4 separate regions of the Homo sapiens genome follow, and regions 1, 2 and 4 are each reported to be linked to region 3. Evidence: microRNA targets listed by miRTarBase, many of them from high-throughput screens and not tested one by one. Region 3 holds a microRNA gene; each other region holds the end of a gene's coding sequence.

Region 1 (3,104 bases), not on the chromosome of region 3:
TGTGGCCGTAAAGCGAGTGAAACCTGCAGTGGCTGTAACACAGCCCGATACTGTGGCTCATTTTGCCAGCACAAAGACTGGGAGAAGCACCATCACATCTGTGGACAGACCCTGCAGGCCCAGCAGCAGGGAGACACACCTGCAGTCAGCTCCTCTGTCACGCCCAACAGCGGGGCTGGGAGCCCGATGGACACACCACCAGCAGCCACTCCGAGGTCAACCACCCCGGGAACCCCTTCCACCATAGAGACAACCCCTCGCTAGACGTGAACTCAGAACTGTCGGAGGAAAGACAACACAACCAACGCGAAACCAATTCCTCATCCTCAGATGCTCAAAGTTGTTTTTTTTGTTTGTTTGTTTATTAGATGAATTATCCTATTTCAGTACTTCAGCAAGAGAGAACCTAACTGTATCTTGAGGTGGTAGTAAAACACAGAGGGCCAGTAACGGGTCGTAATGACTTATTGTGGATAACAAAGATATCTTTTCTTTAGAGAACTGAAAAGAGAGCAGAGAATATAACATGAAATGATAGATTTGACCTCCTCCCTGTTATTTTCAAGTAGCTGGGATTTTAAACTAGATGACCTCATTAACCGATGCTTTACCAAACAGCAAACCAAGAGATTGCTAATTGCTGTTGAAAGCAAAAATGCTAATATTAAAAGTCACAATGTTCTTTATATACAATAATGGAAAAAAAAAAAAGAGGAAAACCCTCAAGGGCATGAGCATTGGATACAGCAGTAGACATTTTAACAAGAAGATGAATGGCGTCCGTGGGTTGCTAACTGAACTTTGAAGACCCGCTACAAAACGCGCAGATGTGCAGCAGATTGGAAGGAGACACAGATGTTCGGTTTTTTTCCTGTTTCTGAAAAGAAATAATAATATCCAGGTCAACAGAATGAAAAATGAAAGATGATTTGCAATGGGATGTATGAATACAGCAGCAAGAAAAAAAAATGCCATAATACAAAAGGCTCCATATATATATATATATATATATATATACACACACACACACGCACATATACACACACACACACACACACACACACACACACACACACACACACACACACACACAAGTAAGAGACTCAGCCTGCAGTTAATTAGCATTCTGGCAGTTTTGACATCAGCCAGCTGCCCTAAATAACCCTTCAACGTTTCTTCACTTTTGCAAGGTTCCACAGAGTAAGACATTGGGTCTATTCCAGCTCATTCATTTTATATTGAAAAAAATAATTTTAAAAATGGTGGCTTCAGCTCCAGCCCCTTTCCAAAATTTTTCAACCCCACCCTGTTTGGATTTTTAATTAAAAACTAGTAGTTCTCTTGGTGTTAAAACACTTCTGTCCTGTGAGGTTTCCCAATGGTGTTTTTCTTGTAAATGTGTTGGACAAATGTGAAGATGCATTGTAGTTTAACCATATGCCCACATTTAGTCTCTTTATTCCTAGTTGGTGAGAAACCTGTATCTTTCTATGCTGCTTTTATATCTGTATGTATTAGTGATATTTCTCTAGTAGTTAAAAAAAAAAAAAGGAAAAAAAGACTCTTTTTGGTTGTCCTCAAGAAAAGAAAAGAAGAAAAGCTATCTTTCGGAGCTGCTATTTCACTCTCTTATAGGATTTTTTTTTTTCCTGAAAACCAGCATGCTTCACGGAATGCTAACATATTGGTGTTTTTGTAAGAGGGATGTACATAAATGTATTTTGCACTGTCACAATGACTCCCTAGGCATGCTTTTTGTTTTTTTTTTTTTTTTTTTGAGCAAATTCTTTTTAAATATGCTAGAGCCATTTCATCAAGTTTAGCTGTAGCATAGAGTAGTCGTGGAATTTTTCTTTTTTTTTTTTTTAAATCATTATTAGGGACTTTTTTAAAAAAATAAAATAACAAGATATCCTACTTTAAAAAAAAAGGACAGTGCATGCATATTGCTGTAAGGTCGTTTAAGTATTTCTAATTTTACAAAAGTAAAAATCATTAGAGCTCCAAATGCTGAGGTGTAGATTGACAGCTTTAACACTGCTGAATGCCAGGTTATACAGTATTCTTACAAAAAGGGAAGTCAGCCAAAGACTGATCTGATGGACCAAAATCGGAATTTTGAAAAGCACCAGTACTACTTTCCAAATGATCAGCAGGTTAAACATGTTCAGCAAGGTATAGTATGAATCCATTAACCCTTCGTTGTCCAGGGTCCAGACCAGAACTACTTGTTAGTTTTGAAAACAGTAGCCCAGGATGTGGTTGTGTGCTTTAGGAAAGTCAGCAGTGCTGCAGGCTGTGTAGACAACCAAAGTTTACAAGGCTGGGAAGACACTTCTCCAAATACATATACACCAGGCATTTCTTTAAAATCAAAAACAATCCATTAGCTTTGGGGCGGGGGGTGGGGGGAGGGTTAAATGTAGGCCTTGGAAACAGTTTTAAGTGGCTTTTAAGTATCTGCATAGAGGCAATCCTAAGGTTTGCTTTAAGTCTCTTAAATCTAACATTTTTAAAAGCATTTCTTCCCTGTATTTTCATATACAAGTTGGTTTTAATTTTGTTTGGGTGGTGTTATTTTTTTTAAATGACTTTTTAGTTTAGAAAGTTCTGATGAGCAAATAAATACATCTATCTACATGTTGGAAGTCCATCTGCCAGCACACCTGCTTAAAGTGAAATGAAAGCACATAACCAGGCTCTGAATGGGTTATATTTTATCATGGTGCTCCCAGAATCCTTTGACCTCACTCTGCTTTCTAGTCTGCTTGTGACACTGGACAGTCCTTTCTTACAGAGCTATTATATGTTCTAGGCTACGAAGGGTTAAATAATCCCAAAAATGAGGTATGTCATACCCACACGTCTTTATCTCTAGAAGCTGTGATGTATGTGAAACAGCACTGTTATTCTTAACACTAGTGTGTAAAATAAGGATTAGTACAGTACGTCTCATTACTTTTTAATTCAGGGCACCCTGAGTGAAAACAAATACAAAAAAAAATCCCTAACTCTGAGCTCTATCTCTGATTCCTCTTCCTCCTTCCCCTCTTCCTCCTCTTCCTCTCCTCCTGTTTTGCTACATTCTCCTCAGTGGCAAAAAG
Region 2 (3,110 bases), not on the chromosome of region 3:
AGCAGATGAGTGCCAGTCCAGCCTTTTCTGGTATGTTATTGTTAGAAATATTGAGTTCTAATGTTACATCTGAGGAAGTATGTAATTTGAGAATTGTAACTTCTAAGGGATTCACTGCATCATAGCTATGCCTGTATGGAGTCTAACATATGACCAATACCAACCCATAATCCAGCTGAACAAAGATACTGTAACATGATTTGAGTGGTGCTTTTCCTTGCTTTGTTAACCATCACGAGAGTCTGCAGCACAACTTTTAACAAAGCTAGAACAGTTTTGGCTTCTTAAACTTCATATTTGGGTAGGTTAAGCTGCCATACGTGTTCAGTGTGAATAGTGTTTAAGTTGAAAATATTGTAAAAAAATTATATTTTTTCAAAAATATTTAAAAAAATAAATAATAGTAGAACTGAGCAGATGGTTGTGTTTATTGGTGCTGGAATGTACTGTAGTGGTGTTACTCACTTGAGTATGGGCCCAGTGCCTCAGGACAATCTTGCTGGCAAAATGTGCTAAGCTTTCAGGCTTTGTTAGATTCTAACAGGTATGTTGCCATGCAAGTACCTTTCCAGAATATAGCAGTAGAATAACTCCATTGCCCATCCTTGCTTCTTAATCACCTCAGACTTCAGTGTCAGGGGAATCCTAGATAGTCATGTAAGAAACTTTATGGCTGACCAATATGATGGTGACCTTACTCTAATAGAACCTCCATTGTTTTTTGTTCTTCACAAGGGCTTTTTTTGAGCTTATTAGGTTGAAAAAGATTAAGAGAGCCATATAGTCAGTTCTGACTCACATTCTTCTGGCAGTGGGTATGGGGGAGGTTCTTTGGTGTGGGCACCTGTACCCCAGTGTGTGGTTGGTTGGTTGGTTGGTTTTTGGAGACGGAGTCCTGCTCTGTTGCCCAGGCTGAAGTACAGTGGCACGATCTCAGCTCACTGCAACCTTCACCTCCCAGGTTCAAGTGATTCTCCTGCCTCAGCCTCCCAAATAGCTAGGATTACAGTTGTGTGCCACCACACCTGGCTAATTTTTGTATTTTTAGTAGAGACCGAGTTTCACCATGTTAGCCGGGCTGGTCTTGAACTCCTGACTTCAGGTTATCCACCTGCCTCGGCCTCCCAAAGTGCTGAGATTACAGGCGTGAGCCACCGCACCCAGCCTTTATTTATTTATTTATTTATTTATTTATTTATTTATTTTCAAGACAGAGTCTCACTCTGTCACCAAGGCTGGAGTGCAGTCATGCAATCTCAGTTCAATGCAACCTCTGCCTCCTGGGCTCAAGTGATTCTCCTGTCTCAGCCTCAAGTAGCTGGGATTACAGGCGCCTACCACCACGCCTGGCTAATTTTTGTATTTTTTTAGTAGAGATGCGGTTTTGCCATGTTGGCCAGGCTGGACTCGAACTCCTGACCTCAGGTGATCGCCCTTAAGAGTAAAGATTCTTGAATGTGGCTTTTGTTGGGAAAAAAATTTAAAAAAAGAAAAGGGGGCTCTAGGCTGGGTGCGGTGGCTCACGCCTGTAATCCCAGTACTTTGGGAGGTCAAGGTAGGTGGATCATTTGAGGTTAGGAGTTTGAGACCAGCCTGGCCAACATGGTGAAACTCCATCTCTACAAAAATAAGCTGGGCATGGTGGTAGACGCCTGTAATCCCAGCTACTCAGAAGGCTGAGACAGGAGAATTGCTTGAACCCGGGAGGTGGAGGTTGCAGTGAGCCGAGATGGCGCCACTGCACTCCAGCCTGGGCGACAGAGCAAGACTCTGTCTCAAAAAAAAAGGAAAAGGGAACTCTAGCCAGACTTCCTGGATGTGAATCCTGTGATCATGGGCATATCACTTAACCTTTCTGTACCTTCCTTTCCACATCTCTAAAATAGCAGTAATAACTGTCTCTGGATTATGTGAGTAGTTAATATATATAAGTACTTAAGACATAGAAAGTCCTGTTTTAAGTGTTGTTATTTTTACTATTAAGGAGTCATCTAGGCTAACCTCTCTTTTTGGGAACTTTTCTTGTCTGTCTGAGGGAACGTGCACATTGAACCCACTTCAGTGTTTAGTAGAGAGCCAGGCATCTGCATTACAGATAGTGATGGAAGGTTTCCGAGCATCAGCTGCCCATGCGTTCTGAAGACCTAAGGACAAAGTGTCACCTCATCAGGGCTTGTACAGGCATCGTTTTAGGATAAAGGCATCCTGTTTTAAAGGGTTTTAATTTTATGACGTTATTGAGACAAGGCAGTGTATATGAGAGGATTTTTCCTGTTCTTGTGCTGCATTTCTCAACATTTTCCATGTCGCATATCAAAGTGATACTTGTTTAGCATACTGGAGTACAAGAATGAGGCTGCCAGTGGCTAGAGTTCTTAGCTCAAGGACTCCAATTGGCCCAGATTCTGCCCAGGTGTCTGGAAGGCTAGAGGATCTGCATTTCAGCATACTTGTAGCCTCTTAGTGGCCCACACTAGTTGGGAAGTTCTGCTGTTACTATGAAATGGTAAAGGAATTCCACCCAAAATCCGTATGTTGACTTTTTACCCAGCTCACCTTCTCTTTGAGGACATTCAAACAGTTTACAAGAAAGAGAACTGAGTAGTTTGGTTTTTCTTTGGTTAAAGCATAAGAATGTTTTGATTATTCAACCCTCCCACAAAAACCATAGACACATCCTACCTTTCCTGGAAGTCATTTTTCAGACCTTGGTGCACACAGATGCAGTTTCTGTATTTTCTGGAGTGTCTTCTGGAATTGCAATCTGATCTTTTGAACTTGAAGAAAATCCTTTGAAGACTGGGCAGATAGGAATGTATTTCAGAAAGGTAATTCTTTTTACTATGCCCATCCCAATGGGGAAATCGTAGCTCTTGAGGCTGGAAGACATGTCACTGTTGGCATGAGCCCCAGCTTTCCACTGTATCAGACCACGCTCCTCTGGGCTCCCTGGAAGAGGATAGTGAGGTCATTTACCAAGGCCAGCAACCCTCAGCCACCCCCACTTCCCATAACCCAGTCCTAAGGCAGACTTCTGGAATCAAGTATCTTCCTTAACTATCATTTGGTCCTAAAACGTGGCTGAATCTATGGTTTCTGAGCTCCTAACT
Region 3 (3,096 bases):
TGACAGCCACCTCGCAGGGCTGTGGAGGGTTAAACGAGGTGATGCATGGACAGCAGCCGCACTGACCTTGCTGGTGTGGGGCTCCTGCTTCTGTTCTTCCCGTGCAGCCTTGGGAATGTTGGAGGCCGTATCCAGGGACCCCTGGGCCTCCTGGGATGGCCTCTCTGGATCAGCCTTGGAAGGTTCCAGGCTGCCCTTAGGCTCCCACATTCTTCCCCAGTCACGCTCTCCTCGCCCTGCCCACACCAGTCCTGTGACCCTTGCCTGAGTTGTGACTTCCCACCCCTCCCCGGCCTAGAGGAAAGCTGCCTGGCCCCTCAGTGGGACTCCCGCCCACTGACCCTCTGTCCACCATACACAGACAGGGGCACTATCCACAAGGTGGTGGAACCGGGGGAGCAGGAGCACAGCTTCGCCTTCAACATCATGGAGATCCAGCCCTTCCGCCGCGCGGCTGCCATCCAGACCATGTCGCTGGATGCTGAGCGGGTGAGCCTTCCCCCACTGCGTCCCATGGGCTATGCAGTGACTGCAGCTGAGGACAGGGCTCCTTTGCATGTGATTTGTGTGTTCTTTTAAGAGCTTCTAGGCCTTAGGGCCTGGACATTTAGGACTGAGTGTGGGGTGGGGCCCGGGCCTGACCCAATCCTGCTGTCCTTCCAGAGGAAGCTGTATGTGAGCTCCCAGTGGGAGGTGAGCCAGGTGCCCCTGGACCTGTGTGAGGTCTATGGCGGGGGCTGCCACGGTTGCCTCATGTCCCGAGACCCCTACTGCGGCTGGGACCAAGGCCGCTGCATCTCCATCTACAGCTCCGAACGGTACGTTGGCCGGGATCCCTCGTCCCTGGGAGAAGGTGGGCATGGGAGAGGGGGAGGTGTTGTCGGGCTGGAGGAGGTGGCGGTACTGGGCCTTTCTTGTGGGACCCTCCTCTCTGCTGGAACTGCACTGGGGTAAGGATAGGAGGGTCAGGTCTGCAGCCTTGTATCTGCTGATCCTCTTTCGTCCTTCCCACTCCAGGTCAGTGCTGCAATCCATTAATCCAGCCGAGCCACACAAGGAGTGTCCCAACCCCAAACCAGGTACCTGATCTGGCCCTGCTGGCGGCTGTGGCCCAATGAGTGGGGTACTGCCCTGCCCTGATTGTCCTGGTCTGAGGGAGACATGGCCTTGTCCTGTGGGCCCCAGGTACATGGGGCAGGATACAGTCCTGCAGAGGGAGCCCTCTTGGTGGGATGAGCGAGACGGGAGAAAAAAGGAGGACGCTGAGGGCTGGGTTCCCCACGTTCATTCAGAAGCCTTGTCCTGGGATCCCAGTCCGTGGGGAGGACACATCCTCCCCTGGGAGCTCTTTGTCCCTCCTCACGGCTGCTTCCCCACTGCCTCCCCAGACAAGGCCCCACTGCAGAAGGTTTCCCTGGCCCCAAACTCTCGCTACTACCTGAGCTGCCCCATGGAATCCCGCCACGCCACCTACTCATGGCGCCACAAGGAGAACGTGGAGCAGAGCTGCGAACCTGGTCACCAGAGCCCCAACTGCATCCTGTTCATCGAGAACCTCACGGCGCAGCAGTACGGCCACTACTTCTGCGAGGCCCAGGAGGGCTCCTACTTCCGCGAGGCTCAGCACTGGCAGCTGCTGCCCGAGGACGGCATCATGGCCGAGCACCTGCTGGGTCATGCCTGTGCCCTGGCCGCCTCCCTCTGGCTGGGGGTGCTGCCCACACTCACTCTTGGCTTGCTGGTCCACTAGGGCCTCCCGAGGCTGGGCATGCCTCAGGCTTCTGCAGCCCAGGGCACTAGAACGTCTCACACTCAGAGCCGGCTGGCCCGGGAGCTCCTTGCCTGCCACTTCTTCCAGGGGACAGAATAACCCAGTGGAGGATGCCAGGCCTGGAGACGTCCAGCCGCAGGCGGCTGCTGGGCCCCAGGTGGCGCACGGATGGTGAGGGGCTGAGAATGAGGGCACCGACTGTGAAGCTGGGGCATCGATGACCCAAGACTTTATCTTCTGGAAAATATTTTTCAGACTCCTCAAACTTGACTAAATGCAGCGATGCTCCCAGCCCAAGAGCCCATGGGTCGGGGAGTGGGTTTGGATAGGAGAGCTGGGACTCCATCTCGACCCTGGGGCTGAGGCCTGAGTCCTTCTGGACTCTTGGTACCCACATTGCCTCCTTCCCCTCCCTCTCTCATGGCTGGGTGGCTGGTGTTCCTGAAGACCCAGGGCTACCCTCTGTCCAGCCCTGTCCTCTGCAGCTCCCTCTCTGGTCCTGGGTCCCACAGGACAGCCGCCTTGCATGTTTATTGAAGGATGTTTGCTTTCCGGACGGAAGGACGGAAAAAGCTCTATTTTTATGTTAGGCTTATTTCATGTATAGCTACTTCCGACTGCATCTGTATGAAAATACCAAAACTACATGCGGGGGGGTGGGTGGGAAAGGGAGGGGCTGGGAAGGGATGGGTTGGGGAGCGGGGGTGATCCCAGTCTGAGGCTCCCGGGGATGAGATAAGAGTCTGGAGACGGGCATGGGTTCTTGGAGAGTGGCATGAGCTGGCTCTGCCCTGGGAGCCCGGTCTGAGGGGGACGTTGTTGGAGCCCCTAGTGTTGGGGGTGGTTATGGGAGGGGGTGGGGTGAGGGAAACGGGAGAATGAAGGAGAAAACTGAGCCCTAGTTTCACCGTGTTCATTTGGAAGGACGAGCCGGGTCCTCAGGGGGAGGTTCCAGGACTCTGCCCTTGGCGTTGAGGGTTGGGGGGCGGGGGGCCTCCTCCCTTCCTCTCAGCCCCCTTCCCCAGGGGCTGTGCTTCCATGCTCCTAGCCTCCCACCTTCGCTCAGGACATGTTATAACTTAGGCTAAACTGTGAAAATTCCGGTGGGGATGGCCTGGGCCGAGCTCTCCAGGCAGGCGGCCCTGCCCCCAGCCCTGTCCATCCATTTCAGGGGGGAGCTGGGCCCTTCTCCGGCTGTGTCTGGCCACCCAGGGCAGTGGCTGGGGCCAGTGGCCTTCCAGCTTTGGCCCCTGCACCTCTTCTCAATGCACTTTAATAATGTAACATATTACTAATAAACAAGCTATTTATTTACCTGCGCCTGT
Region 4 (3,110 bases), not on the chromosome of region 3:
GCAGTTACACACAAACAGATTACTTTTATGTGGCTTAGTAAAGGTGTAATAGAGTACTAAAACTAAGTCTATAAGAGAATTTCCATACTCAAGTACAGCCCAGATTCCATAATGCTAGAGTAAAAAGCACATGAGTGGAAAGTCAACAGGACTCAATGGCCACATAAAGACCAATATTAGGCATTTGTGAGTGTGGTAACATGCGTCCTGCACATCAGGACACAGTGATCTGTTGCTTCCCATTTCTCCCAAAACATAGACTGATAGGTAATAAAAGGCACACATTTTAAAAACATTTTTGCAGCTTTTTAGTTGATTCATTAAACTTGCTTTATTCATCAATATTAAAGTCAGGAAGTAAAAGTGTAATAGCCATGATAACATTCAAAATAGCATTTTTGATGATCTTAATTATTTTTAAAGCCTTCAGTACCTAAAATTTATATATATACTTTCATATTCCCCCCTCTAATACTTTCCTTGCATTAACCTGGAGCATACACAACTTTGAAAAGTCAAAAATCGAGATTGTTTTCCAGGGTAAAGATAGTTGAAGGCTGGATAATAAGGATTTGCTGATGTATCGTTGCTGCTGTTGTTAAGATCTCAGTCAATCCCTCCTGGTTGCTGAAGCCTGAATAAATAATAAGAATCTCTGGTTATTTGGTTGTTTATCCTACTGTTCATAAATAATTCAAACTCCCACAAAACAGTCACTTATTGAGGTTACACATATAAATGTATGGTGCAGTGCTGTGCAGAAAGCATGGCCCATTAGCTCTAACTCACATCAGCTCCCAGGCCCTACGTCAGCTGACCTATCTAAGCCTTTGTTTCTCATCCATAAAGTGCCTGTTATCATATCTATCTCACAGAGATCCTCTCACAGATAAAGATTACACAAGGCCTTCTGGGCAGCAGAGACAATTGGAAATTGAGGCTGAGTGAACCACAGATGTTTGTTGCCTCCATCCACTGCAAAACAGGATCTGATTGGATGAGTTTGTGACGGAGTGATATGGAAAACCCTCAATCGTTATGGTATCTCACAGCCATTGGGCTCCCTCAGATGCAGAGAACACATGAAAGCCCTTGGCTCACACAATGATCCAGGTCCAGTCAATCATGACTGGAACAGCAGGACACAGGATCAGTTTCACTCAAGCTAGATGGCTCAGGCTTGGGTCCACTCTCCCCAAATGGGGCTTTTAGAAATGCCAGGTACTTAGGAGCTTCACAGTTTCCCCTCTAGTATTAATACTTATTGTATTTCATCAAATCCAAGATATACCAATTGTAAGATGCACCATTATTATATGCATCACTGATAATTTTATGCATCACTGATATTTTTCAAAAGGCATCCTGAATGTTATAAGAAGCTGACTGATATCAGAGATGTTAGAATAGGATCTCAGAACGGATGAAATATGTTATGAAATATGGTTATGGTTATGCAAATACCTAGTCATAACAGTCATCAATAGAAGTGTAGCTCCTTTTTGCCCACCTCAAAGGCAAAGCCTGTGTCATCTTTATACCCACTATGGAACCTAAGACTGGATCATGATGGAATGATGGCAATAAAAAACATAACTGATATTTACTGAGCACTTTATTTGTGTTGCAGCGCAACTTTATATGAATTAATACTCAAGATAACTTTTATTGCTTGTTTTGGTAAGTACTATTATTCCCACTTTGCAGATAAGGGTACTGAGACTTAAAGAGAAGTTAAACATCTCAACCAAGTTAGGAAGATGCTTGGATTACAAACCCAAGTCTATCTAATGCTAGATCTACACCTTCTAAGCCACTGTGTTACACTGTCCTTAAGGAGGGTCAGGTTGTGGGTGTCAAGACTACAAAGGCAAGTAACACACGTGAGAAGCTCAGGCCAGAATCAGAGAGAAGGATGGTCAAGAGTTTTGGAGATGAGGTAACTTAAAGAACTGGGTCATGGATTTTATGAGAAAACTTGCTTAAAATCTCCAATTTGAGGTCCTCTGTCCAACTTTCTCATTCCTTTAATTTGGGAGTTAGGCTTTTGCCTCCAGGAGTGAGGGCTGTATTGGACACAATGAAATCAATGTGAGAACATTATTTTCTAACTCATGATTCAGGACCCAGTCACCATGATGCACTGATTTTTTTTCAAACTTCAATTATACTTTAAAAATACATTTGATAAAAGACATTCAATTTAAACATTTCCCAAGCTGATGTTGAATAATTTAAACATTTTCCCTTCTATCTGAGACAGAAAAAATAAATACATAACTCTGAGAATGTACATAACTCTGAGAATCAATCACCTTCATTTCCCTATTCCTTAATGATATTCTGTAATGAGCTGTGAACATATACCTGTCTTTCTGCTGAGCCTCTTCCATCAGCATTTTACCATTAAATGGGAAATAGGGGTGGAGAAGGCTGAGGTAGGAGTACACAAATTACTGCAGGGAACAGAAATTAAGGGCATTTTCCAACTCCAAAGATCAGAATATAAAACTGTTCATTCTCTCAAGAATTAAAGCAGCATAACATAAAAAAAATTAACACAAGAAAATGCAGCAATGGCTTCAAGACAGCGTATTCAGAAGCAAAGCTGACCCTTTACCATATCACCCTAGTGGATCCATCACTCATCACTACACCATCCGATACACAGGGTCACCAACTCTCAGGCTTCCAATTTTTTCCACTGAATAATAGATCCCAAAAAGTGGAGACAACTTGTACAATTCCCTCTCAGAAGGATCACACAGGCGGTAGCTGAAACAAGCAAAAATTCAATCATCAGACACAAAAAGGAAATAATAATCGAAGTATTCTCAATAGAACTCAAGTTTGCCTTCCAAGTTATTTATAAATACACAGCAAGAATTTTCTAAAATGTTGCGAGAGAAGTCTGTGGACAATTAGTCAAACTGCAAATAATTCTAGTTTTTCTAGAAGTATCCTGAAAGTCTACGCAATTTCTCCATGGCTTCAGTTTAAGTCCAAAAAGAAAAAAACTTATGTGTAAGTATAAAATAAATACTTTGTCTATATGGGTACCTTCAACTTCACAACTCATTGAAACAAATGCCCCTAAAACTCAAAATGGA

What was found. The annotated mature microRNA hsa-miR-6881-3p reads AUCCUCUUUCGUCCUUCCCACU and lies in region 3 at 992-1,013, shown strand. An mRNA with a match to its seed (bases 2 to 7 or 8) in the 3' UTR can be bound and repressed. Matches are read on the target gene's strand: a 7mer-m8 pairs with bases 2 to 8, a 7mer-A1 pairs with bases 2 to 7 and ends in A, and an 8mer does both.
Region 1: the mRNA of RUNX1T1 is a reported target of hsa-miR-6881-3p. Seed matches in the 3' UTR shown: 8mer at 710-717.
Region 2: miRTarBase lists SLC23A1 as a target of hsa-miR-6881-3p. The part of its 3' UTR that is shown has no 7-base or 8-base seed match.
Region 4: the mRNA of MTARC2 is a reported target of hsa-miR-6881-3p. The part of its 3' UTR that is shown has no 7-base or 8-base seed match.

Annotation. Positions count from the first base shown.
Region 1 is chr8:91,957,402-91,960,505 of GRCh38, reverse strand. RUNX1T1 (RUNX1 partner transcriptional co-repressor 1) reads left to right here. Exons shown (of 12, transcript NM_175634.3): 12 at 1-3,104. The coding sequence ends at 264. Among named protein-coding and RNA genes, the nearest start is that of RUNX1T1, 140 kb to the left of the region's middle.
Region 2 is chr5:139,369,305-139,372,414 of GRCh38, forward strand. It overlaps SLC23A1 (solute carrier family 23 member 1), which reads right to left. Exons shown (of 15, transcript NM_005847.5): 14 at 2,683-2,949. The coding sequence ends at 2,702. It overlaps PAIP2 (poly(A) binding protein interacting protein 2), which reads left to right. Exons shown (of 4, transcript NM_016480.5): 4 at 1-413. Among named protein-coding and RNA genes, the nearest start is that of SLC23A1, 12 kb to the right of the region's middle.
Region 3 is chr15:74,409,278-74,412,373 of GRCh38, reverse strand. It overlaps MIR6881 (microRNA 6881), which reads left to right and starts at 942; the gene lies at 942-1,017. SEMA7A (semaphorin 7A (JohnMiltonHagen blood group)) reads left to right here. Exons shown (of 14, transcript NM_003612.5): 11 at 362-489; 12 at 664-818; 13 at 1,018-1,079; 14 at 1,389-3,085. The coding sequence ends at 1,750. RefSeq lists enhancers at 1-224, 225-725, 2,731-2,990, 2,634-3,096.
Region 4 is chr1:220,781,443-220,784,552 of GRCh38, reverse strand. MTARC2 (mitochondrial amidoxime reducing component 2) reads right to left here. Exons shown (of 8, transcript NM_017898.5): 7 at 2,621-2,775; 8 at 1-634. The coding sequence ends at 2,652. Among named protein-coding and RNA genes, the nearest start is that of MTARC1, 3.9 kb to the left of the region's middle.